4 linked regions of the Homo sapiens genome follow. The protein of the gene in region 1 interacts with the protein of each later gene in a pairwise test. Each region holds a gene or a part of one and is shown in the gene's direction. Other genes may lie near its edges. The genes, in order: USP54, TOLLIP, STK16 and VENTX.

Region 1 (7,433 bases):
ATAATGACATAATGCTATTTGATATACTTTTTAGAATTATGCAAGATATAGTTAAATAAATGAATTTAAACAATAATGATGCTATAATTAGAAGCCCAAATGTGTGGCCCCTATCTCCCTCTCTTCTTTAGAGTCCATTTATATGAGAAATATAGAGATTTCTTGTATGATTTTGCTGCTCAGGTCTGTGATTAACAGCCAAAGTTTCTCCAAAATGTATTCTTTGGATCAGTTTTTTTCTCTTCCCTCTACCCTTTCTGCAATATTCCTCTTCTCAGTAATGCATACTTGAGTGAAACAACCAGCTCTTTAAGGTACACATGCTCTGCCAACATTGTGAATAAATCTCAGAATAAAAACTAGAGTCACCTCTGATTGCACAGGGATTGCACCTGTGACTAGCCACTGCACTCCAGCCTGGGCAACATAGTGAGACTCTGTCTTTAAAAGAAAACACCAGTGGGGCTTGGTGGCTCACGCCTGTAATCCCAGCACTTTGGGAGGCTGAGGTGGGTGGATCACCTGAGGTCAGGAGTTTGAGACCAGCCTCGCCAACATGGTGAAACTCCATCTCTACTCAAAATACAAAAATTAGCCAGGTGTGGTGGTGTGCACCTGTAATCCCAGCTACTCTGGAGGCTGAGGTAGGAGAATCACTTGAACCCGGGAGGCAGAGATTGCAGTGAGCTGAGATTATGGCACTATACTCCAGCCTGGGTGACAGAGTGAGACTCTGTCTTCAAACAAAACCAAGATTAAAAAAAAAAAGTTAAAAAAAAACCCACTAGACTCAAATTAGTTATGTAGTTTTCCCTGTTTTTCATCTACTTCATGGTATATTCTTCCTTACAACCTAGAGTCAAAGGCTAGAATATTTTCTCTTAGGTTCCTTATTAGCTAAGATCAAGTCCGTCTCTAATTTTTGTTTGCTAGAACTCCAGTTTAACAGCTCTGAATTAAGCTTCCCCTCTCCCCAGGATCAAATGATAAAGGCTTTCATTTGATATAAAGCAGTCTCTTCCCCACCCCTCCCCACCCCAATCCTCCAGTTTATTTAAAAGTCTCAGCCTAGGTAACATACTAAGACCCTGTCTCCAAAAATCTTTAAAAAATTAGCTGGGTCTGGTTGTACACACCTGTAGTCCCAGCTACTCGGGAGGCTGAGGGTAGAAGATTGCATGAACCCAGGAATTTGAGGGTTCAGTGAGCTGTGATCACACCACTGCATCCAGCCTGGGCAACAGAGGAAGAACCTGTCTCTTAAAAAGTTCCCAAATTTTGTCACTACATTCTAAAATCTAGAGTCTTTTATTGGCTGGGCACAGTGGCTCACACCTGTAATCCCAGCACTTTGAGAGGCTGAGTCAGGTGGATCACTTGAGGTCAGGAGTTCGAGACCAGTCTGGCCAACATGGTGAAGCCCCATCTCTACTAAAAATACAAAAACTAGCTGGGTGTAGTGGCACCTACCTGTAATCCCAGCTACTGAAGAGGCTGAAGCAGGAGAATCACTTGAACCTGGGAAGTGGAGGTTGCAGTGAACCGAGATCGTGTCACTGCACTCCAGCCTGGGTGACAGAGCAAGACTTGGACTCAAAAAAAAAAAGAGTCTTTTATTTTCCAATCTCGTGTTCCTACTGCGGAGCCACTCAGTTCCTGCCTTTACTGCCGACATCAGCATTATCATTAGCATCTCAGAAATAAAAGACAATGATGGTTTGACTTTGGGGTTACTCCAGAGGGAGTTATTTTGGTTTTTCTTAGAGAAATCCTCTGTTTCTCTTTTATGACTTTTAAGAGAAGCAAAATGTTCTTTCAATGCATTGAACATTCTGTTGTACCTTACTCTATTTGCTAGTAGAAACCAATAATGAAAAGCTACGGAATGTGACCAAATAGGACTTTTCAGCCTGTGCTTTTCCATTACCCTCCCCACTACCCTCCAAGGATTTTTCTTGATTGATTTACTCAAATCCTAAATATTGTTTCTCCTTGCTAATAATATTTATATTTTTTCAGAGACCTTTGTCTATTCTGGTCTAAGGTGGACCTATTGTGGTGTTACATATTCCCTGCAAAGTACTTGAAAAATATGACTTGTTAAGTTTTGTTGAAGCACAGTTTTACAAAGTACTGTTGTAACTAGTCATCCAACTTTAGAATACCTGAACATTTAAACTAAAACCCTATTTTAAAAAATAATAATCTGAAACACTATGTATCACTCTCCCTCTTGACGTAGTTAGCAATCATGTACCCAAAACCTTTTCTTTCTATTTTTATTTTTCCTTTTTTTTTTTTTTTTTTGAGACAGGGTCTTGCTCTGTGGCCCAGACTGGAGTGCAGCGACACAATCACTGCTCACTGGGGCCTTGACCTCCTGGGCTCAAGGGATCCTCCCACCTCAGCCTGGAGTAACTGGGACCAGAGAGGTGCGTGCCACCACACCAGGCTAATTAAAAACTTTCTTTCTTTCTTTTTTTTTTTTGTAGAGAAGGGGCCTCCCTGTGTTGCCCAGGCTGGTCTTGAACTCCTGGGCTCAAATGATCCTCCCGCAATGGCCTCCCAAAATGCTGGGATTACAGGCGTGAGCCCCTGCACCCGGCCTATAAAACCTTTTCTACAGGCAGTTTGACACTCACCTAACAAAAACTTGTAGTTACCCAATTTATTTTGAATGGCGAAGCCCAGTGGTTGATACAGGGTTCTCTTTCTATTTGGCACAGAACCTCTTGTGCAGTCTTGAAGAGGGAATAAGAAATGTCTGAAAATAACTTATGCAAGGCAGAATGTGAGTATCATAGCAGAGTTTTATGGGAGGTGTTTTCTGAGGGGCCTCTGGAGAGATTACAATCTATTAGAGTGAGATTTCCCTGTGGATCACTTCCCTTACCTGGATGAGACATGAAAAGTAATGTTGTCTAGTTGTAATCAGGGTTGAAGCTCTGTAACTCTGTCCCAGTACTCTAGTTTTATTTGATTAGTTTCACAATGAATATATACCTATATTTTAATGACTTGATTGAAGAGCTTGGTCTTGATGTTTGTATGTCTTTATTTGCAGTCAGCACTTATCAGTAGAAATTTTGTGTTTCACACTTTGAAATGGCATTACTACCTCCTCCTCCACCTAGCACCACTAGGAGACCTGAGTTAGAATGCTAATGGTTAACAAGAAAAGCAACAGTATCTTTTTTTTTTTTTTTTTTTTTGTGGCACTTTCCTTGTGGCCAAAGGACTACTTCAATTTAATATACTGTATTGTTAAAATGTAAGAGCTTAATTAGTTTTGGACATTGCCCATGTTTGTTAAATTTTACCAATAAATCTTAATTACATCTTTTTTTTAGTCAACTCGTATATTTTCTCTCAACCTATAGAAACACAACAGACCTTCATATTTGGCAAGGATTCTGCTGATGAGTTTTTTTCATCAGTATGCTTATAAAACAACTTCTTTCAATAAAACTGTTTTATAACCTCAGGTAATACATAGAAGGGTGTGTGTTGGTCCTCTGGGGCCTTTGTGCCCTGCCTGCAAATGCAAGTTCTCGGTTGACTGATCACATGTTTGGGGGTGGGACTCTGCCTGCTGTTTGTTCTTGGTGATGTAACTAGGTCTCTTCCCCGAGAGAGGGGTGGAGATCTTTCCCTGTTGTGGACTTTGGGGTTGAGAACCCTTAGATCCCAAGCATTTTAAAATTGACTCAGTAGATTCCAATGGCTCAGTTTAAATAATAATTTTCTTTAATAGTGTGGCTCGTTTAAGACAGTTGGAGGAGTTTTGCCTATTAAAATGATTTGATTTAATTTAAGCCCAGTCTTGGAATTCTGAATTAGGGATTCCAACAATAACATTGTTTTGATTATTCTGTAAACAACTACAAAAATGTTGTCTTCTCGTGCTCCTTTTGACTGCAGTGCAAAGGAATTTTTTTGTGGGGGACTGGCCCTTCTTTGGAAGCAGCAGCCACCCTGCAAACCTTATTGTTTAATGACCTTTGTCATCAGGAATGCCCCAGGAAACAGCTTCATAATTGTTTTTCTTAAGCCTCAGGTGAAGTTTGTGATAACGTCCTTTCAAGTTACTTTTGGTTAGTTTCTTAAGTTTACTTTGTTTTTAATTGGAAGCTCCACCTTTTTAACTTTGTCATGAATTGTCAGTGCTGAGTTCCTGGTAGTTGGTAAAAAGAATTGCCTTCTCTCTGATATCCTGTTCTGCGGGAAGTCCTTGTGGTTTAGATTCACAGTTTCTCATTGTTGCTAGCTACAGTCGTCTCCTCCCTCCTAGCCTTCCCTCCCCACAGCTCTAGCTATTCCCATATCCCTCCCCATTCTTGTATCACTTGCCCCACAGATACCCTCGTGATTAGAGGTCTTTTGCTGGAGGTTGACTGTGCTGTCTGGTAAGTATTGTAGTTGTTGTGGTAAAAACAGATAGATAGAAGATTCAGGAACCGGTTAGTTTTTGTGAAGTTTTCTTTCTTTTAAAAAAAATATTCCCAAGCACTGATTAATAAGCTATTTCTTTTAATAGCAGTAGATTAAACTTTGAAATTGAGATTTTAGGACTCTCAACTTTCAAGAGGCATCTTTCAAGCTGTTGTTTGTGCTCTTTCCCCCTCCTCTCTGTTACAATTATTAGATTTTGGAGATTTCATATTTTTTCCAAAAAAAAAAAATTCATAGATTTTCTTGAGTTCCTTAGAATTAAAGGCAAGAATTGTGGATTTAGTATTTTAAATTTCCTTCAAACAGAAGAAGGTTATTTGTGATTTCTTTATACCTATTTTCAGTATTAACATACTGGTTAAAGTAGTAATGAAGAAAAAAGAGCCTATTTTGTGGCTAAATTGGAAAGTAGCTGAATGATTCTTTTTTCCTATCAGCAGAATAGTGTTGGCAAAATCCACTAAGATTTTGGCAATATGTTGTCAATTCTAAGAGATGGTTTGCCAAGTACTTCAGGTTAACAGATGCTTCTGGGAATGATTTTTGGGAAGTTAGATAAATTTGTTCATTAGCACCTGCTTCCTTGAGGCATGAGGCCTATGATCCTTTTGAAAGTAAAATATTTAATATTTGATATTTAGATTGAGTCAAATATCACTTTCATAATGGGCTATTTCCTTGCGTTTTGTGTTTTGAGCTTCTAAGAATATTTGTGTGTGTATTAAAAAAAAATTTTTTTTTGGATACTGGATGGTTGATACTTTGGTATTTCAAGCAGTTATAAGTGATGAGCTTTGGATTCTCCCAAACTACTGCTAGTTAGAAGTCATCTTTATGGTAGATGATGTGAGAGGAAACTTGTTTCTGGGATTTCATTGCTGTTCAGTTGAGGCACTTATTCAAATGATGGTTGTATTCGTACAGTAATGATTTCTTGAGCTCCTAATATGAGGTAAGTGCTGGGTCCTTGCTAAGTGCTTTGCATTTACTTCTAATTCCCAGTACAACCTGGCCAGGTAGTAGTATTGTCCCTCTACAAAGCGGCTATACATAGGTAGAAAGAACATGGGTTTTCTTTCCTGCAAAGTGAGAAAAATAATCACTATTTGGCAGGTTAATTGTGAGAATTAGAGGATATACCATGTGTCCAGTGCCTAGCGCAGTGCCAAACATGTAGTTTGTATTCACTAAGTGGGCTACCATTATTATAATTTTACACCTGATGAAAGAGGATAAGTAATCTGCTGAAGGTCACTCAATTGTAAGTGGTAGAGCTAGGATGTGAACTGGCTCAAAGTGTGAAGTCTGGTAGCATGTTTTCATTTGAGTATTGTAAAGGCTGTTAGAGTAGATTTCATTCCTTCTCATCCCTTCACCTCCTGCCCCTACAGAGGAAATCTTCTTTATAGATATTCTCCTTTCTTTGGTATCCTCTGTCGCCCTCCCAGTCAGTCATGTGCTTGCTCTCTCACACTGGAGTTGCTTGTGCCATTCAGTACCAGTGTTCTCCCAACAGAAATGAGTCAAGCCAGTGCTGTCAGTTTGCTTCCCCTCCTTTTTTCCTCTTGTTGATAGCACTGTCATACTTTCATTATTGTTTGTACTGAAATAATTTGAGTACGGGTATATTTATAATGATTAATAAATAATGCATTGATGGAATCAAGTGTTTAAAAAGTCTTAGTGATTCATAAAATTCGGGATAAAAATCTCTGGTTCTAAATGATTAAATCAGAAGGTTATTATATAGGGTAACTTTCTGGAACTCATTGTTTTGCTATCCAGGGGCCTAATAAATTGCTATTGATTTTTGTTCCTTTAACCACTGCTATTACTAGTTTGCTACTATTGGCAGTAGGGTTTAGAAAGAACATTTCGTTTGTCCTACTGACCATAAAATAGAGTATCTTTCTTCTGTAGACCTTTTGGAAGCGCAAGGTATGATTTAGATGCGATATGATTTTGGCAGGAGATTCAGGGACAAGCTAAAGAGCTGTTTGGTTATGCCTGTAACTGAGTTATCTCTAAACGGAAAAATGTGAGTTTGATTGGTCTCATGAAACTTAGTTCTTCATTTATTTGTTTAACAAGGAATGAGCATTTGTTGAGTGTAAGGCAATGTAACTTTCTACCTTGTATTCTAATAAAGTATTGATATACTGGTTAAATATTGATTCATGATGTTCCTGGGAGGGAGAGAGAAGTCCCAGTTGGTGTGGAGAGGTATTTAAAAAGACAATCATTTGGGAAATGAATTAATGTAAATGACTGCTCCTTCCTGCTGATGTATGACTATTAGTAGTTCCTATCACTGTAAGTAGCCAGTGGTATGACTTCTTCAAATAGGTTTGCTCAGTGGAAAAGATTGCTAGTATTAGGTAGGACTGGGAAGATGGGAGGAGCATTCGTTGATTGAGAAATACAAAAAACAAAGTAACTGGGCATGTGCACAGAACAAATCTTTTTGTATGTTTTAAGGGTAGATGAGGTTGGAAATGTGCAGGGGATAAGATTGTGGAAGGCCATTCAAAGCCAGAGTTTTGGCTGTATTTTGTCACTGAAGTTTTCTAAGCTAATTGTGATTCATCAGTTTGCTTTTGCAATATTGTATAGATGGGATTAGAGAGGAAAGAATAGTTAGAAAGTTTCTGCAATAGTCTGGGTGAATTGTATTGAGAATGCACTGGTTTTAGAATACATTTTTCCCAGGCTGGGCGCGGTGGCTCACGCCTGTAATCGCAGCACTTTGGGAGGCTGAGGTGGGCGGATCGCTTGAGGTCAGGAGTTTGAGACCAGCCTGGCCAACATGGTGAAACCCCATCTTTACTAAAAATACAAAAATTAGCTGGGCGTGGTGGCACACACCTGTAATCCCAGCCACTATGGATGGAGGCTGAGACAGGAGAATTGCTTGAGTCTGCGAGGCGGAGGTTGCGGTGAGCCAAGATCACGCCACTGTACTCCAGCCTGGGTGACTGCGA
Region 2 (7,569 bases), on another chromosome or scaffold:
AGCGCTACCAACTGTGGCGTTCAGGATGGCCATGATGCAGGGGACAACCAGGTGGTTCCTGCCACTGGGGTCTTCCAGGGCAGCACGGTAGACATGGCAGCACATAAGGACAGCTGAGCTGTGTGGTGACGGCCCGGTGGGTCTGTGATCTTAAGCGTCAGGTGCTGGGAGAGTTTGTAAATGGGCCTCACCAGGGCTGGGTGTTGGGGTGAGGACGTGACATCTCTCGGAGGAGGAATGGGAGTAGGGGTTGGGCTGGGAGGGCAGGGCACGGAAAGAGAGGTGTGGGGTCTGGAGGTGGAGAGGAGGGAGCCCCAGGGGCCGAGGATGGAGGGAGGCAGGAGCTGGAGGCCGCCGGAGGGTCCTGGGCACAGGAGGACTGGACTTGCCCTGGAGTTTACCGGCTCAGCGCAGCACTCTGTAAAGTGTTGCCTGGCACACGCAAGGCAGGGCCCGCCTTGGCACCAGCCTGCTTCGCTGAGCATGACCCACCCCAGCCCCTCTGAATTAACCCATAGTGGGCCTTTACCCAGTTACTAGCACCTAGAGGAGCCCTGCTTTTGCAGGATGTCTTGACACAGTATTTATCATGTCCTCTTTCTGTTACACCTGTGGTGCCAGAGAGGCAGGAGGTTAAGCAGGGCGCTCGCTCAGCTTTCCAGCAGAAAGAGATGCTCCCCAGGGTCCGGGGGCAGGACTCTGGCTCGGGAGACCCTGACTGTGGTCTAGCCGTTGCCTCCCCCTAGTGATAAGGGGAGACGGCAAGATCCCATGGGCCGTGAAGGAGCAGAGGGGCCGCTAATGGGGTCCTGGGAGGGTTCTTTTGTCCTTGGGTAGAGGGAGCTTCAGGGGCCCGGGTGGGTAGGTGTGGAGAGGACGTGTGAAGCTAGCCAGCCCGACATCGTTCTGAGAGAATCATACCGTGTTTAGATCTTCAGGATAATGGTTCCCTGAATAGCCACTAAGGGATGCTTCAGCCCTGTGCAGTGCTTCCCTCACGTTTCAAAAAGGCCAGTATTTTGGAAAGATAACCTTTTTTCAATATAGTCTGCATATTATCAGAAAGCATGGGTGAGTACCTGCAAGGAGTACCATGTGGACCCCTGCGAGGGGTACCGTGGGGGCCCCTGCGAGGGGTACTGTGTGGACCCCTGTGAGGAGTATCATGGGGGCCCCTGCGAGGGGTACCGTGCGGGCCCCCGCGAGGAGTATCGAGGAGTACCGTGTGGACCCCTGCCTTCTGCAGTGAGATCTCGGGACGTTTGCGGGAGACTCCGCTGCAGCCACCGCGGTGCCGTCAGAGAGGCCTCCTTGGTAGAGGTGGGTGCGCTGTGCCGTGTCCAGGCTGCTCTGACTCCTTGTCCTGCTTCTGGAGGTGCTGGTTGGCCATGGAGTCCAGCTGGAGGCGGCCTGGCCCCTCCCTTCCTCCCTGAGAGGCCTGTTCCTGTCCAGGTCCCCTCACTCTTCACATCGTTGATAATTCCTGCCGAATCGGTGACTTCATTAGGGATGGCAGAGGGTAGTTTCTGAACTTTATCACTTCTTCGGTGTTTATTAACTGGGATTGTTTGTAAAGATTAGCTTTCCCCATCAACCGGTGTCGGCTGGCTGTCCTGAAACACAATTCGTGAAAGAAAGGCAAGTGAGATGCTTTTCCCTCATCTTCCCGTACCTCAAGGAGAGAGTTGCTTTTCTTTGTAGATGTGTGTGGGCTTTCTCTCCCCTGAGTGTTGTGAAGAGCCCGTGGATTTTCCTGCATCCTGTGTGTCTGAGCCAGTGGCACTTACCCGTCTCCGCTGGCTCTGGTGGGCTGCTCCTGGGAGGGCGTCCGTTCCTGCTGACTGCACCTGAGCCAGCGGGGAACGCACTCACCGCCTCCTCACGAGTCCTTTCTCTCTGGGTTCCTGTGAACCTTTGCGCTGGATTTTTTAGGCCGGGTTGTGAGTCTGTACAGGTGTGGAATTGCTGTGCTTGCCTGGAAATCACATCTTTTCACTGTGTGGGGACCCACGGGCCTCTTGGAAGATAAAGGCCTCTTGCCTTTGATTATTTTGTCTGATACTGGCATGGCCACCCCAGCTGTCTTTTAGAGAGTATTCACCTAGTACTTTTTCCTTCTATGATTTTACATTTTTCTGAAAACTTTTGTTTAAGACACGTGCACCATCGATAGCACGTAGCTGGATTTTTAAAAAGTCAAATCTAAGAAGACTAAGTCTTTTGATGGGAATGCGCTAGTTTCATCTTTCTAGTTAAGAGATGCCTAGATGGATACACAGATTTACAGATTTTTTACATGTTTTCTTTGGTGCTTTTATTTGTCCTACATTTTCTTATTTTTTTTCTCTCATTGCCTTTTGAATTTATTAAATGGAGTTTTAAAAAATTCAGTTGTTTTATCTCAAGTACATACACACTGTGCTGGGAAAGTACAGGGGCTCCCCTGGAAATGGTAACATGCACTTATCAGCTTCTGCCATGAGGGAGTCTCTGAGTGAACTCTGGCTCCGGAGGCTGCCCGGCTAAAGAATAAATAAAGAAGAAGTTAATCATTGTCTGTGCCACCTCCGGATCCACGCGGAGACCTCGGCCGCCCCGTCCTGGCGCGGGTGCTGCTGTGCCTTGTGTGGGTGCTACCTCCCCTTGGGGCTCCCGCAGGAATGTGTTACTTCTCTCGAGTCAGCGCTTGTTTAGATTTCCTTCTGTGTTTCTCTTTTCTTATCCCTTCTGGTGTCTCGGGCCTTCCATTTGGGGTCACTTTCCTTTAGCTTCAGGTTCATCTAGAATTTTCCTTGCTGGCAAACTTGATTTTTGCTTGTACATGCCTTTTCTCTGTGTCCTGACAGCTATTTTTGTGTGTGTGGAACTCCAGGTGGGCGGTACTCCAGGTGGACAGTACTCCCGGTGGACGGTCACTTGTCCTCAGTGCCTCGAAGGTGGGACCCCGCCCTCTCCTGGCTCCTGGAGTGGCTGCTGAGCAGCCCGGGAGTGGATGTCCCTTCCTCCGGCTTTCCTTCGTTTTTGGCCCTCTGTTTGCTGCCTTCTGAATACGCTGCTTCTGGCCTGCCTCCCAGTTCACTTGAGGTCTTTTTTTTTTTTTTTTTTTTTACATGGAGGCTCGCTCTGTAGCCCAGGCTGGAGTGCAGTGGCACAATCTCAACTCACTGCAACCTCTTCCTCCCAGGTTCAAGCGATTTTCCTGCCTCAGACTCCCGAGTAGCTGGGATTACAGGCGTCCACCACCACGCCCAGCTAATTTTTGTATTTTTAGTAGAGATGGGGTTTCACCATGTTGGCCAGGCTGTTCTCGAACTCCTGGTCTCAAGTGATCCGCCCACCTCAGCCTCCCAAAGTTTTGGGATTACAGGCGTGAGCCACTGCACCCGGCCCTAACCTCTGTTCATCTGGGCCTCTAACACTGTCCCTTGACCTGCCCGACAGGCCCCTGGTTAGGCCTGCTGTGCAAGTGTTTCCTGTCCCTGAGTCACTGTCTCCAGATCCTGCGGGCCCTGCCCTGGCACCGTGCTGGTGAGGCCTGCCTTGCTGCCCTGTGGGAAGTGCAGCGTGCCCCTGCCACCCGGCCTTGCCCTGTTTCTTTGCACAGCGCCTCCTGCCGTTAGCATACAGCATAACTCATGATGCTTCCCGTTTGTCTTCTTCCACTCACGTGTAAGCATCCCAGGAGCAGGGGTGCCCCAGCACCTCACCATGGAAGCCTCAGGCACACAGTGACACGCAGAGGCTGCCGCAGCGCGCGCCCTGTGCCCGGCGCCCAGGGCCTGCCACGTCACATGCCGTCCCTCTCTGGATCTCTGTCCGCCCTTGGCCTGCTGCTTGACTGGCTTTTGTTTCATCTGAATGAGAAGGGGTTTTCCGCCTCTGCCTTGCTTGACCGTCCCAGCACTTAGGATGCAAGGCTGCCTGCAGTGGAGTTCCTGGCAGAGACCCCATTTAAAGTCGCTTGTTCTGTAGTCAGCTTTTATAATCTATGCTTATTCTCATTCTGTCCTGTACTCTTCCCTTTCACCGCTCTTCAGCTTACACGGGTTCGTTTCAATACTGTCATCTCCCAGCTTCCCTTACACAAATTCTAGTGTTTGCTTTGAGACTTTAGCAGAGCCAGGGAACCTCCCGGCATGTTGGCTTTGAAGCGCCTGTTGTGTTTTGTATAATTAAAGGAAGAGGGGAGGGGGTGATAGGAAGAGGGAAGGAAAGCCCTGTCTGAGGAAGGCCCCGGAAGGGGAGACAAGGCACGGCGAATGAGTGCTCAGCGAGGGCTCCTGGGAGGGGGCTGCTGAGCGGCCGTGGGAGGAGGATGTGGGAACTGGGGACAAAGTCACCACTGCCCGTCCACACTGGCGTGGGAGCTGCCTTGCCAAGAGCAGTTGCATGAAATGCCACTTATTTGCTCAAGGGTTGTTTATTGAACATGCCAGTGCCAGGAGACTGGCGTGGAGCATGAGGCCGAGGCTGGCTGGAGTGGGTTTTGGGGAGTGTCAGGAGGCTGGTGTGGAGCGTGAGGCCGAGGCTGGCTGGAGTGCCAGGGGCTGCAGGGTCAGGTACTGGTCCAGCTTTTGGATGCTGGTGCTGTGAAGGGTGGTGGGTGAGGGAGCCAGCAGCTGAGTGGGCATGGGGAATTGCAGTTTTCCTTCTAGCCTTATTTTGGAAAATGCTAAACTTACAGGGCAATGGCAGTGGCCACCAGTGAGTGTCGGTGAGTCCTTCACCTCCACGGGGCTCCCCTCTTGGCCGTGAGTGTGCAGGCCTGGGGCATGTGCAGGCTGGCACTTCAGTCTCTGAAACCCTGCGCACTGAGGGGTCAGTCAGCTGGGCAGAGGGACCGCCAGGGCCACCCAGGGTCTGTCCTGACTGCCCACGGCCCTGTGTCTCAGCCCTGGTGCGCGTTCCCGCCCTCTTGCACGCCCGGATCTGGATGTGAATCACACAGGTGTGCGGGCATCGGGTGGATGGGCCATTTCTCCTGGGCCAGACTGAGCTCTGACCTGGGTGTGAACCTAGCAGCAGACATCCCCTGTAGGACAGTGGCCTGGAGCAGGCCCCTTGCAGGGCCTTCAAGGCAGGGCCAGCCCCTCAGACACAGCAGGGAGGCTGGTGATGACCTGGGCTCCAGGTTCTCAGCTTCATCTGGACCAACTGTGCTGTTCTATGTGAGTCCTGGGGCCCTGACCGAGTCTGGGGCTCCCTTCCTAGCAGACACTCAGACCTCGCCCAAGAGGCTTTGAGACTGACTTCCGCCCATATCCCTAGATGTTCCTACTACGGGGGATTTATTTCTCTCTGTTTCATTAGCTTCCTCTGTCCCTTTAGCCACGAGCCCAGCCCAGGTCTTCCTGCTGTGGGTCCCAGCTCTGAAAGTCACGTTGAATCATGGCCATGTTAGGAACTGGAGAAACCTAGGGCTCAGGGTACAGAGTTTCACTAGTTGGGCTTCTGTGTTGGGGCCTCCGTGGGCTGGCTTTGTGGCTTCAGGAGTCCTTGACGCTTGTTCTCAATGTGGGGGTGATATTGACCCTGAGAGGGCACAAGGGGTTCTTGGGGGAGGAAACTTCTGGGGTTTGGCGGCCGTGTGTGCCTCCCCAGCACAGCTCCTGGATTTCTTGCTCCTTAGTATTTCATTGTCCCTGGGTTTTCTGGGTGTCCCAGCACATGGATACGGAGTTCTCGGAAGCCCGCGACACATGTGCGATCTCAGACCTGCTGTGAGGTGGGTGGGGAGGGTGGGCAGGCGCCTGCGGATGCCGTTTGTGTGGGATCCTCAGTGCTGGTGTGAGACTCTGGCTTGGAGAATTGAATGAGAATCGTCGACATTTTGTGATTTAATTCCACAGAACGTATTTAGCCCATCGCTAATGATGTCAGTTTGCTGAAAGAATACCAGCCAGCCAGTTAAAAGGTACTTTCTCACATCAAGCAAAAGCTTCAGTTCACTAAGGATATTTTTTATTGTGTTTATATAAGTTGTTTATTTCTACGTGTGATTTGATACATTACAATTTATGTAAATAAATTACACTCAGCGCTGCTCAGCGCATAGTCATGAAGTGCTAGAAGCATTTTAGTTTTTAATTGAACTTCGTTCGACTTAGTTATGCTAACCTGGCGTTAGCGCTGAGACTCGTTGAGCCTTGCTTGCAGTGTTTACATGCCAAGTGCAGGTGCATGCGTGGCACACAGACACAAACAGCACCTCCACAGCCTCGCAGCGTCATGGGGTGGGAACGGTGAGAAGGTTTAAAAAGGCTCCGCAGGGGGCCAGTCATGGAAGTGGCCAGGAAACCCTGGTCTCCTGCCGCCTGCGTGTGGCCAGCCGTGCTTCAGGGGCGACTGTGGTGCGGCTCCTTGGGGTGATGTCTCCTGGCAGGCGTGAGGCCAGGACTGCATGTGTTCAGGACTCCACGTCCTGGGCTGAGCTGGGCTCTTCCGGGGCTCTGTCAAGGCAGAAAGTGTGGCCCAAGGAAGCAGCGGCACTCTCAGTCGGAAACGTATTCCTAACAGGTGTCGGGCAGAAAGTGTGGCCCAAGGAAGCAGCGGCTCTCTCCGTTGGAGACGTGTCACCAACAGGAATATTCACAGTGGGTGTTTAATTTGTGTGCTTAAAAAGAAAAATTAGCTTTGGATTGACTACACACATTGCATGACAAAAAAGAAGAATTAAGACTTTATTTCTGTGCCAAAACTAAAACTTAGACTTGAAGAGAAATTGTTTTAAATAGAAGTGAATGTTGGAGACCTCTTTTCTTTCGTGTGGAAAGGTACGCTGCAGTGGTTTAGAGCTCTGGCGTCAGTGAGGGAGGAATGGTCGTCAGTCACAGGCTTGCGTCGTGATCCTCTGAGAGCGGCACATGGGGGAGGAGAATCAGCAATTCCAAGAAATTTGAAGTTACATTTTAAAACTATATTTAAAACAGACTAATATTTATAAAAGTAGCTTTTATTTTCAGAGAAGATAAAATGCTGTGAGCTCTGTGGGATGAGAGCCCTACCCTGTCCTTTTTATTTTAAAAGTAATTCACGAATGTTTTTAAAAAGTTTCTAAAAATAACTAGCAGGATATAAAAGTATAAATAAATTGAAATAGAATCTTCCCTGCCTGTTTCCCTCGAGTTCCATTCCTGAATGCTCCTCCAGAGTTGGTGTCGACAGAGGCCTCCTTATGGCTCCCTGCAGCAGGTCGTGCCGCACCTCCGCCTCCGCCTCCGTCCCCCGAGTCTCCATGTGTTCGCGGCAGGGACCGCCGGCTCCTGGTGAGGCCGCGTGGCGATGCGCTGGGTGGATGTGCCTGGCTGGTGGACGGGGCGTTTTGACGGCACAGGTGACGCAGCCTCAGGCATCCTGTGCTCACGTGCCCGAGTGAGCATTGACAGGGGACTGGCTCCTGAAGTGGAATTGTTGGCCTTCACACGGGCATTTAGACTTGTTAGTGTTGAACTCAGTATGTGCATCTTGTACATGGAAGCAAAATTCTAGAAAAATATCCATTATGTATCGGGAGTAATCATTTTTGTTTTCATATTTCCAAGCCTTTGAACCAGGGTAAAGCATATATTT
Region 3 (8,478 bases), on another chromosome or scaffold:
GGAAGCAATGACTCTTGTCAAGAAATTCCCAACCCTAAGCACCTTGTATATTTGCACGCCAATGAAATTTGAACATAGGAAACCTTAAAATAGTGTTTCTTAAAAACAAATGGGCCGGGCGTGGCGGCTCACGCCTGTAATCCCAGCACTTTGGGAGGCGGAGGCAGGCAGATCACGAGGTCAAGAGATTGAGACCATCCTGGCCAACATGGTGAAACACTGTCTCTACTAAAAATACAAAAAAATTAGCTGGGCATGGTGGCGGGTGCCTGTAATCCCAGCTACTCAGGAGGCTGAGACAGGAGAATCGCTTGAACCCGGGAGGCAGAGGTTGCAGTGAGCCGAGACTGCACCACTGCACTCCAGCCTGGGCAACAAGAGCAAAACTCCATCTCAAAACAAACAAACAAAAATGGTGGTATATGGGGAGACTAAAATATAGAGGGGATGGCCGGGTGTGGTGGCTCACGCCTGTAATCCCAGCACTTTCTGAGGCCAAGGCAGGGGTGGATGACCTGAGGTCAGGAGTTTGAGACCCTCATGGCCAACATGGCAAAAACCTGTCTCTACTAAAAATACAAAAAATTAGCCGGGCAAGGTGGTAGGTGCCTGCAATCCCAATTACTCGGGAGGCTGAGGCAGGAGAATCACTTGAACCCAATCGGAGGTTGCAGTGAGCCAAGGTCACGTGACTGCACTCCAGCCTGGGCAACAGAGCAAGACTCCGTCTCAAAAAAAAATAACAATTATGCCGGGTGCGGCGGCTCACACCTGTAATCCCAGCACTTTGGGAGGCCAAGGCTGGCAGATCACGAGGTCAGGAGATCGAGACCATCCTGGCTAACACAGTGAAACCCCATCTCTACTAAAAATACAAAAAATAGCCGGGTGTGTTGGTGGGCACCTGTAGTCCCAGCTACTCAGGAGGCTGAGGCAGGAGAATGGCGTGAACCTGGGAGGTGGAGCTTGCAGTGAGCCGAGATTGCGCCACTGCACTCCAGCCTGGGTGATAGAGCGAGACTCCATCTCAAAAATAAAACAAAATAAAAATAATATATATATATGTGTGTGTGTGTGTGTGTGTGTGTGTGTGTATATATATATATATATATATATACATACATATATATGTATGTATAGAGAGAGCGAGAGAGAGACCAGGAAGGCCTCACCAAGGTGACTTCTGCAGGAGGCTTGTGATGAAGGAGCACCACATGCAAAGGCCTCAAAGCCCAAGGCCTGGTGGGTCTGAAGAACAGCAATGAGGCCACTGTGGCTGGAGCAGAGTGAACATGGGGGAGAAGAGCAATAATGTCGAGGAGGTGACTGGGGCCAATTGTGTAGGACCTACCACTTTAAGGAATTTATGGTTCATATTCTGAATGAGATGAGAACCTACTAGAGAGGTTTAAGCAGAGAAATGACAAGATCTGAGATGTATCTTTAAACTTATACTTGAACAGGATCACACTGGCTACTCTACTGAGAACAGATTGTATGGGGGAGAGGGCAAACAAGGGAAACCAGTTAGGAAGCTATAAAATAAGCCAGCTGAGAGAGATGGTTTGGACCAGGGTGGGGGCAATGGGGGTGATAAAAAGCACTTAAATTTAATGTTTGTCAAGATACAGCTGATAGGATTTTCTCTTTTTTGAGACAAAGTCTCTTCAATCTGTCACCCAGGCTGGAGTGTAGTTGTTCAATCTCGGCTCACTGCAACCTCTGACCCCCGGGCCCAAGTGATTCTCCTGCATCAGCCTCCCAAGTAGCTGGGATTACAGGTGCCCACCACCTCGCCCAGCCAATTTTTTGTATTTTTAGTAGAGATGGGATTTTGCCATGTTGGCCAGGTGGGTCTCAAACTCCTGACCTCAGGTCATGCACCCGCCTGGGCCTCTGAAAGTGCTGGGATCACAGGCATGAGCCACCGCGCCCAGCTGTTTTTTTTTTTTTTAATCAGTTTCTTCCACTATATTATAAGCTTTACGGCACAAGGATGGGGGTCTGTCTGGTCCCCCAGTTTCTAGCATCCTGCTGGGCATGAAGGAAACACTTGGTAAATGAATGATGACCTCCAATTTGGGAATGGTCTCTTCTGCTTTTGGCACCCAAATAGCCCATTTTACTTACTTGCTTCTGTGTTAAATCCTTTGTCTCAACTCACCTGGATCTGAGGTTCTTAGATGAATTTCAGGTTTTCGAAGCAACCAGGATGGGAGACCCCCCTGAGACAAACATAAAGAGAACAAAGAAGCATGTAGGTTTTGTTTTGGGGTGTGGTGGGGAAGCTAGGAAGGGAAGGAAGGAAGGGAAGGAATTGAATATAGTGCTGGAGATGGCCCTAGAGTGTGGGCAGATGGGAGTAGTCTAGGAACTGCACAAGGATAACTGGTTCTATCCCTTCTCCAGCTAACTCACCATCTCCCACTCTGCACAGATGTAAGGTCCTGGTCTCAGTATGACCAACAGGTTCGCTAGAGCTGCCTCATTCAGAAAGGCAATGAGGTCCCGGCTGCCATTAAAGTTATAGACCCCAGGCTGTGGCTCGTGGTAGTTCCAGGGCACATAACTGAGAAAGGAAGAGGTTAATAGGAACCAAGGTGAAGAGACGCCAGGGAGGCCTAACGGCTCAGGCCTTGCAGGGAATCTCCAGGAAGCGGTTGGAAGGAGGTCCTGGCCTGCCCTTTCCCACCCTTGGCCTAGGAGTCCTGGCAGTCTTCCTGTCCCGACCTTCTTTATAAGGGGGCGGTAGAAAAAGTAGATCCCATCCCTCCGCGGCTCTTGCGAGCACTTCTTACAACTGTATGGCGTTGAGGCCGCTCCATCGCATCTTCAAAAGCCGGTCGGCCCAAAGCACCCGCGGTACCCGAAAGTAGTGCAGGCTGCCAGACACATAGCGGAACGGGGCCCCGTCTAGGAGAAACCGGTCATGACCCCTATCCACTACGAACGACCGAGTGTCTGCCTATAAAGAGAAAGAGACGCTGCTCAGCAGACGCCTGGAGGGAGCGTCGAGGGTCAGCGCCTGCCAAGAGCGGAAGAGATGGAACTAGCCCTGCGGGTTGTTTGGTTGTTACTTTGGACTTTCTCTCATCCGCTGGATCTGATCCCGCTCACCGCACCCGGCAGGCTGGTTCACCGTCTCATCTTACCTGGGGCAGCAGTAGCGTCAGGCTGAGCGGCAGCAGCAGGGAACGAAGGCAGGACAGCTTCTTGGGAGCCATGGCGTTTACAGCGCTCCTCTAGTCTGAGACGGCGGACAGACCGTCACGTGTCGGATTCCTGGGAGGGAACCTCAGCGAGCAAGGGGGCGGAAACCACCTCAAGTTGCCAGGCGTTTAGCCTGGACTTCCTCTCCAGCCTGCAGCCACCCCCTTACTCTACTAGTTTGTAAAATTTCTACATCATGTTAAAGTGCAGTTCACGAACCAGCTTCATCGACATCACCTGGGAACTTGTTAGAAATGGAGAATCTGGCTGGGCACGATGGCTCACGCCTGTAATCCCAACACTTTGGGAGGCCGAGGCGGGTGGATCACTTGAGGTCAGGAGTTCAAGACCAGCTTGGCCAACAGGGCAAAACCCTGTCTCTACTAAAAATACAAAAATTAGCCGGGCCTGGTGGCACGCGCCTGTATTCCAAGCTACTCCGAGGGTGGGGGTGGGGGTGGGGGTGGGGGTGGGGGTAGGGGCTGAGGCAGGAGAATTGCTTGAACCCGGAAGGCGGAGGTTGCAGTGAACCGAGATCCTGCCACTGCACTCCAGCCTGGGCAACAGAGCGAGACTCTGTCTCAAAAAACACAAACAAACAAACAAAAGAAATGTAAAATCTCAGATCCTACCTCAGACCTATAGAATCAGAATTTGTATTTTAACAAGATTCCCAGGTGATCCTAGGCACCTTCAAAATTGAGAAGCATGGCTTTACTTGACTGGGCTCCCTGAGGACAGGGAGTGCCCTGTTCATCTCAAATCCTCAGCCTCTAGCACAGGGCCGGGTATATAGTAGGTTAAATCTGGATGAATCAATGTCATAACCAAAAGGCTAAAACAGGTTCAGAACCAGGGGAAACCATTGGAAAATCTTCAGGGTGATCCGGGGTGTGGAAGGGAGGAACCAGGTCACAAGAAGGACCTCTTTCCTGGAGAGTCCTGTTTCAGCAAAACAGCCATTCCCTCCTGGCCATTCCACCTTCTTTGGAAGTGCACCCCTCTCCAGCTTACCCCTGCCTGCCTCCGCAACAGATATTAAGGACAACTGCTTTGTGCCAAAGCTCGAAAATCTGTGAATTTCCGTTCCTTTTGCCTTTACAGTCTCAAGAATGGGATGTGAAGATCAGGGTAATAATAATTACGGTTTATTGACACGTACTGAAGGCTATGTGTCAGATATTGTATTAAACACTGTACATCTCATTTAATCTTCAACTCCATGAGGTAGATAATTATTTCCATTTTACAGAGGAGGAGAGGAAAGGACAGAAACATTAAGTAGCCTGTCCAAGGTCACACAACTACGTTAACGGAGCTGTCATTTGAACTAGTCAGTCTGGCCTCACAGTTAAGCTACTTAACCTTATGTACTATTATACCTATTTTACAGCTACCAAAAGTAAGGATCCGAGAGGTTAAGTAACTTGCCCGAGGTTACACAGCTAGCATGCTATTAACACTCAATTTAGAAACTGGAAGTCTGGTTCACAAGCCTGAGCTCTTAACCACTGAGACTAGGGGTAGTGGGATACAGGCCAGAGCCCAGAAGGTTGTACGGGATCAGGAGACCAGGCCACCAGACCCGCCCCTCACTGGATCCCCCTCCAGGCTGCAGTGTAGTTGGCCGCTTTCTGCCCCAGAGCGCCAGAGGTATGAAGCCTCCTACCTCCAACATTGGGAGATGGAGGTCCTGGGGGCCTCGGGCCGAGCCCGGCTTTGCTCCCCTTTGGCGTAGGTGCCTGCGTCTTGACCCCCACCGAAGGCCAAGTAGAGAACCCTCACCAGGGTCCTGGGACCCGTCCACCCCTACACCTAGCTAGCCCGGAGCCTCTCAGCTCCGCGTCCCCACATCCTCCGGATGCCCAGCGGTTGCTGAGATACCGCGGGCCGTTACGCCGGCGCGGACTGATGATGTCAGCACTGCTTCCGGTCGGTGGCGCTTCTCTCTGGCCCGAGCCAGGTCAGTCCGGCAGTGCAGATGGCCCATCCCGGGCTCTGGGCTCCTAGACCGGGGTGGGCCCTGCCAGGAGTGGGCCTGAGCCTCGCACGTCCTCTGAAACTACGCTATGCTCTGCTTTTGCGGCGCGATGGGCGTGGGAGCGGGGGCTGCCCAAAGATGGGCTGGGGTTGGAGGAAGTGGCCCGGTAGCCGCTGTGTGTCCTGAGGCCGTAAGGCGCCTGACCCCACCCCTGAAGCTGGCGACGGAGCAGGGCCTGTTTTCTCTACACTATAGTGTAGGTTCCAGAGACCTGGGCCTGAGCTCTCCGCATTGGTACTTCATGGGTCGTCTGGATTGTGCCGGACCTGTGACCCTGCCGTTGTTTTCTTTCCAGCATGATCCGCTGGGCCCCCAGCGCATCTCCTGGAAGAGCCCACTCACCCTGGACGAGCTCTTCGGTAGCCTCAGACCGTCCTTGAAGAGGATGACTGAGACATTATGGGCCACGCGCTGTGTGTCTGCTCTCGGGGAACTGTCATCATTGACAATAAGCGCTACCTCTTCATCCAGAAACTGGGGGAGGGGTGAGTGTTTGGAAGTCAGTTAACTAGTCCTCAAGTTTATGATCATTGAAGGACAGCGGTGTGCATATGCTTGGGGCACAAGGGTTTTATCCCTATCCCTGTCCTCTCTCACCTGACAGAACCTAGCTACACAGTATCAAGAAGGTGGATTCTGGAGCCAGGCCTGCTAAATCCACCTCGTGTGACCTTGATAAACCATGTTTTTTTCATCAGCTTAATGGAGATGATTATTATCCCTCACTGATGGAGTTGTGAGGATTAAATGAGATAATGTGTATAAAATGTCTCACCCAATGCGGGGTTGACAAGTACTTGATAAGTGTTGGCTATTATTTATTTAGCATCTGTCAAGTGCAGAGGTCTCTATTACGACCATAGGACCTCAAAGATTTCTATATCTCTGCTCCTGAGGAGCTCACGGTGTAATATTCTTCAGATTTCTCTTAGAGCCACATCTTGGGAAGGTTTCTGCTAAATGGGAAGGACACCCCACTCCCCACCAGGAAATTTCTCTAGGTCCAAGCCATGTGGGAGATGACCATGGCCCTTTATTGACCCCTTTGGCCCACAGTGGGTTCAGCTATGTGGACCTAGTGGAAGGGTTACATGATGGACACTTCTACGCCCTGAAGCGAATCCTGTGTCACGAGCAGCAGGACCGGGAGGAGGCCCAGCGAGAAGCCGACATGCATCGCCTCTTCAATCACCCCAACATCCTTCGCCTCGTGGCTTACTGTCTGAGGGAACGGGGTGCTAAGCATGAGGCCTGGCTGCTGCTACCATTCTTCAAGGTCAGAAAGACTCCTGGTTATGGAGGGGGTTGCAGCAGAGCCACCTACTCAAGGGCTGTGTGAGCAGTCCAGCATGTTAGGAAGCAGGGACCATGTCCTGGGTTTGGCCACTTTAGATTTTGAGTTTGAGGTGTGTATCATGAAAGGGCTGATAGGCTTTGACATAGGGAAGGGATCAGGCCTAAGGAGCAGAGGCTCCAAAAACATCTCCAACTGTAGGGAAACTTGTGTTGCAGAGAGGTACGCTGTGGAATGAGATAGAAAGGCTGAAGGACAAAGGCAACTTCCTGACCGAGGATCAAATCCTTTGGCTGCTGCTGGGGATCTGCAGAGGCCTTGAGGCCATTCATGCCAAGGGTTATGCCCACAGGTCAGTGGGAGGACCCTGTGTGCTTGCTGGGGCCCAGAGGAAGAGCCTCACCAGGAGACATGGGAGGTCTCTGTTCTCCCAAGAAACAGCCTGTATGATTCTTTTGCTTGCTGGGATTCCAGCCTTCCTGTCCAGAGATGCTCATAGGTCACTTCTACTTCTCTACAGAGACTTGAAGCCCACCAATATATTGCTTGGAGATGAGGGGCAGCCAGTTTTAATGGACTTGGGTTCCATGAATCAAGCATGCATCCATGTGGAGGGCTCCCGCCAGGCTCTGACCCTGCAGGTAAAAGAGTCTCCAGGTTCCTTTTCTCACCTGTTCCCCATTCCCACCCCTTCTGGTGCATGTCCCAGTTTGGTCACATGACCATGACCTGTGCCCCACTTTTGAGCTCTGGGATCACTGTTCCAGGACTGGGCAGCCCAGCGGTGCACCATCTCCTACCGAGCCCCAGAGCTCTTCTCTGTGCAGAGTCACTGTGTCATCGATGAGCGGACTGATGTCTGGGTGAGGAGCATGTGGGTGGGTATCTGGGTAGGGAGGGCTGTGGCTCTGTACCCACCGTGGAGTAGAGTAGGTTGTTGGTTTCTGTTGCATGGGGCGCCAGGAACCACAATATGTCCCCATCCACTTCAACTTCCTTCCTGGGAAATGTCACTGATACTGTACCCAGTTGTACCGGATGTGGTATAATCTGTGCCCCTGAACAAGGTGAGTACAGCTCAGTGTCAGTAGTGAAGGCACTGGCTAAGCAGGGGCTAAGCTAAACAGGGGCTGCGGAGGCCTCCAGCTGACTGGCAGTTTCTCTGGACCCTGGTGGTGCCATGTGGCTGAGGTCAGCGTATTCTTTTTAGCTTATGGAGTCTCCTTTTACCACAGAAGTAAAGGGAGAGATGTCACCTCCACTGGTCCCCTTCTAGGGACTAATCAAGTTATGCTCAGTCCCTAGGCTGCGTGCTATATGCCATGATGTTTGGGGAAGGCCCTTATGACATGGTGTTCCAAAAGGGTGACAGTGTGGCCCTTGCTGTGCAGAACCAACTCAGCATCCCACAAAGCCCCAGGTGAGTGAGCAACGAATAGGGCATCAAGTGTTTCAGACTCCCCCCTGGTATTAGCTGAGTTGACAGATAGGTGTCATCCGGTCACCCTGGGCTCCTCCCTCCACAGGCATTCTTCAGCATTGCGGCAGCTCCTGAACTCGATGATGACCGTGGACCCGCATCAGCGTCCTCACATTCCTCTCCTCCTCAGTCAGCTGGAGGCGCTTCAGCCCCCAGCTCCTGGCCAACATACTACCCAAATCTGAAAAAGCAGCATGTTGAGAAGATGGCCCCTTGTGCCTTGGAAAGAGGTTCCCATCCCTCATTGGAATCACCACCCATTCCATCCAGGACTTCTCTTACACTTGGGGGTAGCGGGGTCAGGACAATCATCTCAGTCCTGCATCTTTTCTTCTGCTTTCTTCCCTCCAAGAGCAAAACCTGGGCAAGGGGACTTACTGAGTGGGGGTGGGTGGGGGTTGGGAAAAGGGAAACTGGTGGGATATGGAACATGGCTCTGAGCAGGACTGTTGA
Region 4 (8,193 bases), about 60 Mb from region 1:
GGACGCTGTGGCTCACGCCTGTAATCCTAACACTTTGGGAGGCTGAGGTGGGTGGATTGCCTGAGCTCGCTCAGGAGTTCGAGACCAGCCTGGGCAACATGGTGAAACCCCATCTCTACTAAAAATACAAAAATTAGCCGGGTGTGGTGGCGGGTGCCTGTAGTCCCAGTTACTCGGGAGGCTGAGGCAGGAGAAGTGCTGAACCCAGGAGGCGGAGGTTGCAGTGAGCCAAGATTGCGCCACTGCACACCAGCCTGGGCAACAGAGACTCTGTCTCAAAAAACAAAAAAACACTCTGAAGGCAGACGCGGTGGCTCACGCCTGTAATCCCAGGTCTTTGGGAGGCCAGAGGCGGGCAGATCACAAACGAGGTCAGGAGTTTGAGACCAGCCTAACCAACATGGTAAAACCCCATCTCTACTAAAAATGCAAAAATTAGGCATGGTGGCGTGAGCCTGTAATCCCAGCTACTCGGGAGGCTGAGGCAGGAGGAGGCAGGAGAATCGCTTGAACCTGGGAAGTGGAGGTTGTGCACTGCACTCCAGCCTGGGTGACAGAGCGAGACTCCGTCTCAAAAAAAAAAAAAAAAAATAGACACCCTAGGCCAGGCTAGGTGGCTCACGCCTATAATATCAACACTTTGGGAGGCCTGGGCGGAAAGATCACTTTGAGCTCAGGCATTCCAAACCAGCATGGGCAACATGGTGAGACCCCGTCTCACATCAGCTCCACCCTGCTGTGTTTCCTGAGAATCTTCAAGCTGCTAAAAGCCTGTTGGATGAGCCAAGCTTGCAAACATTCCCCCTCACATACACAGCCCCCAAAGGTCAGAGTCACAGGCTGAGGCCACAGTGGGGTCTGAAACAGAGCTTAGGTGCACCCTACATGACCCTGTCGCTCCAGAAGGTTACTGCTGACAGCAAGCCCAGGTCCAGACAGCCACATCCCAGCAAACACACCAGCACCCTAAGGGTGGGGGCTGTGCCGCTCTATCACTCGGGTTACTGGACACTCGGCCCTGGAGGAAGGACCCATCTCTGGGCTGGAGCAATTTAGGGGCACCAAGCAGAATTAATCTGCCTTCCTACTCAGGTAGTGGGGCAGGGGCCACGTGCTATGATCCTCCTGAGCCCGGTATCAGAATAATGAATCTGAATACATGGGCCCCGGACCTCTAATGCTTTCTAATCTGGTGCAGAGAGTGTATTTTGGCTGTTTAAATCAATCTAGGGGCCAGATGCGGTGGCTCATGCCTGTAATACCAGCACTTTGGGAGGCTGAGGCAGGAGAATTACTTGAGCTCAGGAGTTTGAGACCAGCCTGGCCAACATGATAAAATCCCATCTCTACAAAATACACAAAAATTAACTGGACATGGTGGCACGCACCTGCAGTCCCAGCTTCACTGGAGGCTCAGGCAGGAGGATCACTTGGGCCCTGGAGATCGAGGCTGCAGTGAGCTGTGATCACATGAGGCGCTCCGGCCTGGGCAACAGTGAAAGCCTGTCTCCAAAATAAGTAAGGCGCTCTGTAGGCATGGCAGGATTAGCCTCCTGTGTGCTGTTTAATGGGGCCAGTGTCTGAGCACAGTTGGTTTAGCGTTACCTTTTTTTTTTTAGATGGAGTCTGGCTCTTGTTGCCCAGGCTGGAGTGCAATGGTGCGATCTTGGCTCACCACAACCTCCGCCTCCTGGATTCAAGCGATTCTCCTGTCTCAGCCTCCCGAATAGCTGGGATTACAGGCATGTATCACCACGCCTGGCTAATTTTGTATTTTAGTAGAGACAGGGTTTCACCATGCTGGTCAGGCTGGTCTCGAACTCCCAATCTCAGGTGACCCGACCACCTTGGCCTCCCGAAGTGCTGGGATTACAGGCGTGAGCTACCGCACCTGGCCGGCTTAGCGTTTCTTTATCGGCCATGCACCAGACCAGCCCCACTTCCTAGTGGACGTGTCGGGGAGCGGGGAACATGGGGGAGTCGGGGAGCGGGGAGTGTGGGGGAGTCGGGGAGGGGAGCGTGGGGGTGTCAGGGAAGGGGGCGTGGGGTGTCGGTGAGGGGGGCATGGAGGTGTCGGGGAGGGGGGCGTGGAGGTGTTGGGGAGCGGGGATCGTGGGGCGTCGGGGAAGGGGGCACGTGGGATGTCAGGGAGGCCGAGGCCACAGGGGTGGGTGTTGGGGAGGGGTTGGGGAATCTCTACAAACTTTTTTTAAAGTCTGGTTAATTGACGTGTAATTCACATACAGTAAAACTCACCATTTGTAGTGTACGGTTCTACGAATTTGTAAAAATACATATAGTTGTGCAACCAAAACCACAATTGAGTTACGGAACATTTCCATAACAACAAGAAACTTTTTTTGTGTCCCTTTATAGTCACCTGCTCCCTGACTCCCAGCCCTGGCAACCATTGATCTATTTTCTGTTCCTATAGTTTCGCTTTTTCTAGAGGGCCATATGAATGGAATCATACAATGTGCAGCCTTTTCAGCCGAGTCTCACTCTGTCGCCCAGGCTGGAGTGCAGGGGCACGATCTCGGCTCACTGCAACCTCCATCTCCCAGGTTCAAGAGATTCTCCTGCCTCAGCCTCCTGAGTAGCTGGCCTCCCCCTCAGGTGGTCCCAGAGTGCTCGGAGGAGGCTCGGGCGAGTCGCGACGGGGCCGGCAGCACGCGCTGGGCCCGGTGTCTGTCCTCAGGCCCTGGACTCGGGGGGAGCGCGTTTCGGGGACTAGCTGGACTCCGGGCTGTGCGTGGGGGCGGTGCTGTCGGCCTGGGAGTGACGCGGGACTTCCTGCCCAGCGCAACCCGGCCTGGCCCCCGAGGGTGGGGGACAGGGCGACGCCCGCGGGGACCACGCTCTGGGGCGTGCGGGGCGCAATTCACGGGGCTGGGCTGCCCCAGGGGCTGGGAGGAAGGAGGCAGGGGGGCGCCCAAGTCTCCTACCCATGGCAGCGCATCAGGGCGCGTCCCAGAGCCGGGGGTGGACGGAGGCTTGGAGGCGGAGGCTTTGGGGACCCCCAAGCCTGGGCTAGAGCAGCCTCGGCGGGCTCTAGAGGGAGGGTGGAGGGAGGGGCCCGGGCTGCAGGAGGCGGGGAGGCCTGAGCCACGGTGGTGGGGCCGCTGGGCAGGAGAGAGGGGCTGCCTGACCCTGCCGTGTGAAGGTGAGGTTGTCTTCGGGCTTGGGGGGATCGGAGGGGGCGGTTCAGGTGGAGGTGGTGGCGGGGGGCTGGGAAACCGGCAGGAGGGGCTCTATGTAGAGCTGGGGGTGGGGGTGCTGAACCACGTACAGAAGGGGGCTGAGACACCGGGGCCCTGGGCCCCGGAAATTAGAAATGGAGAAATGGAAGGCTGGGTGCTGGCGTTTCGGAAATGCATGCTCGTGGTGTTCCTCTTTATGTAAGGGAAGCTTCTGGGCCTTTTCCCTGCCTGTCGAACGTTCTGTATGTTTTTGCGGGATGTGTGAGGTGTGCTGTCTTGCTCCACTTTGAGGCACCGCCCCCACTGCGGGAGTGCTGGGGACCTGCCCCATGGGGCATCCTCGGGGCCAGCCCTGTGGCCACAGGCATCTGGGCCCTCGCTGCCCCTGGCCGGGACACACTGCCGGTCCTGTGCAGTGGCTCAAAGCCCCTCTACCGGGGGTGACCCGGTCTCTCCGGAGATGAAGTGCAGCGGGGGTCTAGGCCGGCTTCCTGGCCCCCCACCCCTCCTGGCTTTACCCCCGAGGCCACGTCCAAAGCCCCCAGCGCCCCACCCCCGCCAGCCTCCCCCTTGAGGGCCCAGTGACCTAACTGGGCCGGCAGGGTCCGAGGAAGACCAGGGTCAGCGGCGGCACGGTCCGTTCCGCGACCCCTCTCCTGTGACCCCAGGTAGGCCGCCGATCGGTTCCCGGCTGAGGTCCCGCCCCAGCGCCCGCCTCCCGGGCTCCAACCTCTTTGCTCAGCCCGGGAGGCTCGGCTGGCTGGGGCGGGCGTAACCGTGGGGCGAGGCCCGCCGGTCTTTCTGATTTCCGCGGGCGGCGTGGGCGCTGAGGCAGCCGCGGTCAGGACCTGGCCGGGAGTCGGGGCTGCTCCGTGGACCCCGCGTCTGCGCCGAAACCCCGCATGGCTTCGGGGGCCGGACCTGCGCCTCCGCCTAACTCCGGCCGCCGGAGACGCCGTGCGGACCCCAAGCCAGTGCGCGGAAGACACCGTCCTACCCTCGGCATGGCTGCCTCCCACCCGGTCACGTCGGTCCCCGCGCCCCACGCCGACGCGCAGGCGACCCGGGGACGCGGAGACGCAGACAGCTCGGGACTCAGGTTCGTGGGAGCAGCGGCCGCGCGTGGCTATGACCGTCCCGGGGGCCCGTGCTCAGGGCGTCCCCGTGAGGTTTGGGCGCCACAGTCACCGGCGGCTCTGCCCGCGCCCTGGCCACAGTGGGGACAGCCTGGCTTGGCGGGGACGCACCAGTCCCGCCGCCGACGCGGAGTTCCTACCCCGCCGTGCGAGGCAGTGGCTCCGGCCCTTCCAGCTCGGGATGGAGTCAGGGAGCCGCCCGCGCCCGAATGCAGAGGCTCCTGCGATGGCCCCGGAGTGAGTCCCCCAGAGGAGCCGGATTAGGGCTGGAGGCGGCCGAGTCCCCCGAGAGGCCCCTCCCGACATTCCCGCCCCCGCGCGCCGCTCCCCGGGTCCTCCGCGTCTCTTTCCCGGGAAAGCCTCCCTCGGTTCCTGCGCGGCCGCACAGCCTGGACGCAGCGCACGCGGGCACCGGCCTGACTCTCCCACCCCGAAGCCTGCTCCCAACCTAAGTCCGCCCTGACTCTCCCAGCCTGAAGCCTGCTCGCCCTCGGGTGTCCGGGCTGGGCACAGGCGCCAGCGTCCCCCTGGAGAGGAGAGGTCGCCCGGCACCTCCCAGGACAGGCCCAAGTGGGAGTGGGACCCTCCTACCTTCCTGCAGCCTCGGCCCGCGGGGTGGGGGGTTGGGAGAGATGAAAGGAGGTGACCGATCCCGAACCATCGCCTCTCCATTAACCAGGGCCCGCAGCCCCGCCCCTCCCCCAGACATCGAGGAGCCGGGGAGGTGTGAACGGCCTCCTTTGTGCCTCTGAATCGAAGGCAATTAGGCGCTGCTTATCTGGGCATTAGCCGTGTATGCAAACCGGGCTCCCGCCCCCTCCTCCTGGGCTTATAAACGCCGCCGCCTGGCGAGGCCCGAGGTGGATCCTGCGCCTGGCCAGCCCCGCCTGGCCTTCCCTCCGGCCCACCTGGCCGCCATGCGCCTCTCCTCCTCCCCACCTCGTGGCCCGCAGCAGCTCTCCAGCTTTGGCTCCGTGGACTGGCTCTCCCAGAGCAGCTGCTCAGGGCCGACCCACACCCCCAGGCCTGCCGACTTCTCCCTGGGGAGCCTCCCTGGCCCAGGCCAGACATCCGGCGCCCGGGAGCCCCCTCAGGCCGTCAGCATCAAGGAGGCCGCCGGGTCCTCAAATCTGCCTGCGCCGGAGAGGACCATGGCCGGTAGGTCCGGGTGGGGGGGGTCCCTTCCTTCCCAGGTGGAGATGGGAGTGGGGGAGAGGCCAGGAGCCCGGCGGCTGCACTCCCCGCGGTGCCCTGCCCACTAGGTCAGGGCCGGGGGCGTTTCCATGAGGGCCGGCGGAGGCCTTGCCGGCGCCCTCACTGGAGCGCAGCTTCCCTCGGAACCAAAGCCTTGACGGGGATTTCCTCTCCTTGAGCCCCCGGTGGGCTCCTCTGCCTCCTTTTGTCACCCCGTTCCTCAGCTGTGTCTTCGTCCCCCACCCCGGCCTGGTGCCGAGGGACCGTCCAAGGGGTCCCCGTCCGCACCTCCCTGCCCTGATTCCGGGCGCTCACTGAAAGTCTCGATGATTTGCCAAGCCCCCCGCCCCCGCCCCCCAGCACAGCCGGTGCCTGCTCAGCGTCTAGGCTCAAGCCCATTCCGGGTCACCTGGAGCACAGCTGTCTTTAAAGAGCCTGCAGGTTCGCTGCAGGGGTGGCGGTGACCCCGATGCCTGCAGAAACTCTGAAGTTCCCTCTGTGGCCGCCCAGATGCTCTGTTGTCTGCTGAGAACAAAGGTTCTCTGCGTTTGTGTTTTAGTCTTTGTGACATCATCACCACTTTTAGGTTTAAGGTAGTACTTGGTCAAAAGTGGGGTTGACATCATCTACAAGTTTTCATTTTTAAAAATTTGACTGATCCTTATGGAGTGACTTTGTACTTAAGGGAAATGAAAATTTAAATGTATTCTCCCCAGCTAGCTATCCTGCCCCACCCCAAAAAAGCCAGCCATCCCTGTCCCGCAACCCCCTTTCTGATGCCAGTCCTACAGCCCTCCCTGCCAGAAGGCATTTGCTTTTTGGGTCTACCATGTGCTTTCAGGCTAACGTTAAGACAGATTTTGTAAAATACGCTTCCTTCCGCAGAAACTCCAGCGAGCATTTTGGTCAGACTTGCATTTAATGTCGAGCTCGATTGGCCACGTTGGCCTTTCCTGGGACCCAGACCCAGCTCCACAGACCACCTCGTGGGGCCGTTTGGTGCCAGCCCCCATTCCTTAACTTAGAAATTAGGAAACAGACTTGACCACAGTGGGCCTGGGGATTAACTGAGTTGGCCTCCGCTGGCTGAGGAGACGGAGCCCGGGACAGGGATGGGTGCCCCTGGGTGGGTCGCCAGGCCTTTGCATATAATGGATTCTTACCTTACCGGCCTGGAAGGCTGTGGGAAGGGCATCCTGGGAACCGGCTTCTGGAAGGGAAGTGTGGGATGGGGCGGAACTGAGTGGACTGAGCGGAGGGCAGGCCCAAGCTGCTGTTAACATTCCCTCCCCTCTTGAGCCCCCTCTCTGAGCCCCCTTTCCGCATGTGACCTGGGAGGCGGCGGGGGTGCTGCTGGTCACTGTCAGGTGAGAAGATCTGCCCTGCCCAGCCCCCAGCATGGCTGTCTTCACCTGTTACCCGTGGGCACGAGCTTGCCCCATGGGGTGGCATGTTGAGCCAAATGCCCTTACCCTCTATGTCAGGGTTGAGTAAGGAGCCAAATACCTTGCGGGCCCCCCGTGTCCGCACAGCCTTCACCATGGAGCAGGTCCGCACCTTGGAGGGCGTCTTCCAGCACCACCAGTACCTGAGCCCTCTGGAGCGGAAGAGGCTGGCCAGGGAGATGCAGCTCTCAGAGGTCCAGGTGAGGTGGGCCGGGCAGGCTGGGGTGGGCAGGGGTGGGCAAGGGTGGGCTGGTGGCCTAGTCTCACCCCTGTTCTGATCTTGCTTTTCCTACAGATAAAAACCTGGTTTCAGAATCGCCGCATGAAACACAAACGGCAAATGCAGGACCCCCAGCTGCACAGCCCCTTCTCGGGGTCTCTCCATGCGCCCCCAGCTTTCTACTCAACGTCTTCTGGCCTTGCCAATGGCCTGCAGCTGCTGTGCCCTTGGGCACCCCTGTCCGGGCCCCAGGCTCTGATGCTGCCCCCTGGCTCCTTCTGGGGTCTCTGCCAAGTGGCACAAGAGGCCCTGGCATCTGCGGGAGCTTCCTGCTGCGGGCAGCCTCTGGCGTCCCACCCCCCTACCCCAGGCCGGCCTTCGCTGGGACCAGCCCTGTCCACGGGGCCCCGGGGCCTGTGTGCTATGCCACAGACGGGGGATGCATTTTGAGGAGGCACCTCTGACTCCCACACTCGCGGTCTTGCTGATCGCACCTGGCTCCTACCTGGAGGACTCAGTTGTTCTGTTTACATCCTGGTGGCACCTCTCACCCTGACCCACACAAAGGTTCTGGAGATTACTGGAGAATATATATAAATATATATATGTACGTATATATGTAAATACACATATACGTATATATAAATATATATATACATATGTGTGTGTATATATATATATATTTTTTTTTTTTTTTTTTTTTTTGAGACGGAGTGTTGCTCTGTCACCCAGGCTGGAGTGCAATGACGCAATCTCGGCTCACTGCAACCTCCGCCTCCTGGGTTCAAGCGATTCTCCAGCCTCAGCCTCCCGAGTAGCTGGGATTACAGACACCCGCCACCACGCCCGGCTAATTTTTTCTATTTTTAGTAGAAATGGGGTTTCACCATGTTAGCCAGGCTGGTCTCAAACTCCTGACCCTGTGATCCGCCCGCCTCGGCCTCCCAAAGTGCTGGGATTACAGGCATGAGCCACTGCACCCGGCCCTGAGAATATAT

What was found.
Region 2: the proteins of USP54 (region 1) and TOLLIP interact in binary tests that used the Homo sapiens proteins (3 or more experiments, as listed by UniProt).
Region 3: the proteins of USP54 (region 1) and STK16 interact in binary tests that used the Homo sapiens proteins (3 or more experiments, as listed by UniProt).
Region 4: the proteins of USP54 (region 1) and VENTX interact in binary tests that used the Homo sapiens proteins (3 or more experiments, as listed by UniProt).

What each region holds. Positions count from the first base shown.
Region 1 is NC_000010.11:73,588,251-73,595,683, reverse strand, and holds the start of USP54 (ubiquitin carboxyl-terminal hydrolase 54), read left to right. Parts: upstream 1-4,341; 5' UTR 4,342-4,406; intron 4,407-7,433.
Region 2 is NC_000011.10:1,299,574-1,307,142, reverse strand, and holds part of TOLLIP (toll-interacting protein), read left to right. Parts: intron 1-4,352; exon of another isoform or gene 4,353-4,559; intron 4,560-7,130; exon of another isoform or gene 7,131-7,265; intron 7,266-7,569. UniProt on the Homo sapiens protein: Component of the signaling pathway of IL-1 and Toll-like receptors. Inhibits cell activation by microbial products. Recruits IRAK1 to the IL-1 receptor complex. Inhibits IRAK1 phosphorylation and kinase activity.
Region 3 is NC_000002.12:219,240,350-219,248,827, forward strand, and holds the start of STK16 (serine/threonine-protein kinase 16), read left to right. Parts: upstream 1-5,129; 5' UTR 5,130-5,447; intron 5,448-5,546; 5' UTR 5,547-5,650; coding exon 5,651-5,736; intron 5,737-6,307; coding exon 6,308-6,527; intron 6,528-6,763; coding exon 6,764-6,897; intron 6,898-7,065; coding exon 7,066-7,186; intron 7,187-7,312; coding exon 7,313-7,408; intron 7,409-7,843; coding exon 7,844-7,965; intron 7,966-8,071; coding exon 8,072-8,210; 3' UTR 8,211-8,478. Other genes in the region: GLB1L (beta-galactosidase-1-like protein isoform 1 precursor), read right to left, coding at 2,165-2,225, 2,419-2,569, 2,799-2,965, 3,153-3,224. UniProt on the Homo sapiens protein: Membrane-associated protein kinase that phosphorylates on serine and threonine residues. In vitro substrates include DRG1, ENO1 and EIF4EBP1. Also autophosphorylates. May be involved in secretory vesicle trafficking or intracellular signaling.
Region 4 is NC_000010.11:133,232,662-133,240,854, forward strand, and holds the start of VENTX (homeobox protein VENTX), read left to right. Parts: upstream 1-5,193; 5' UTR 5,194-5,253; coding exon 5,254-5,494; intron 5,495-7,014; coding exon 7,015-7,175; intron 7,176-7,270; coding exon 7,271-7,645; 3' UTR 7,646-8,193. UniProt on the Homo sapiens protein: May be involved in ventralization.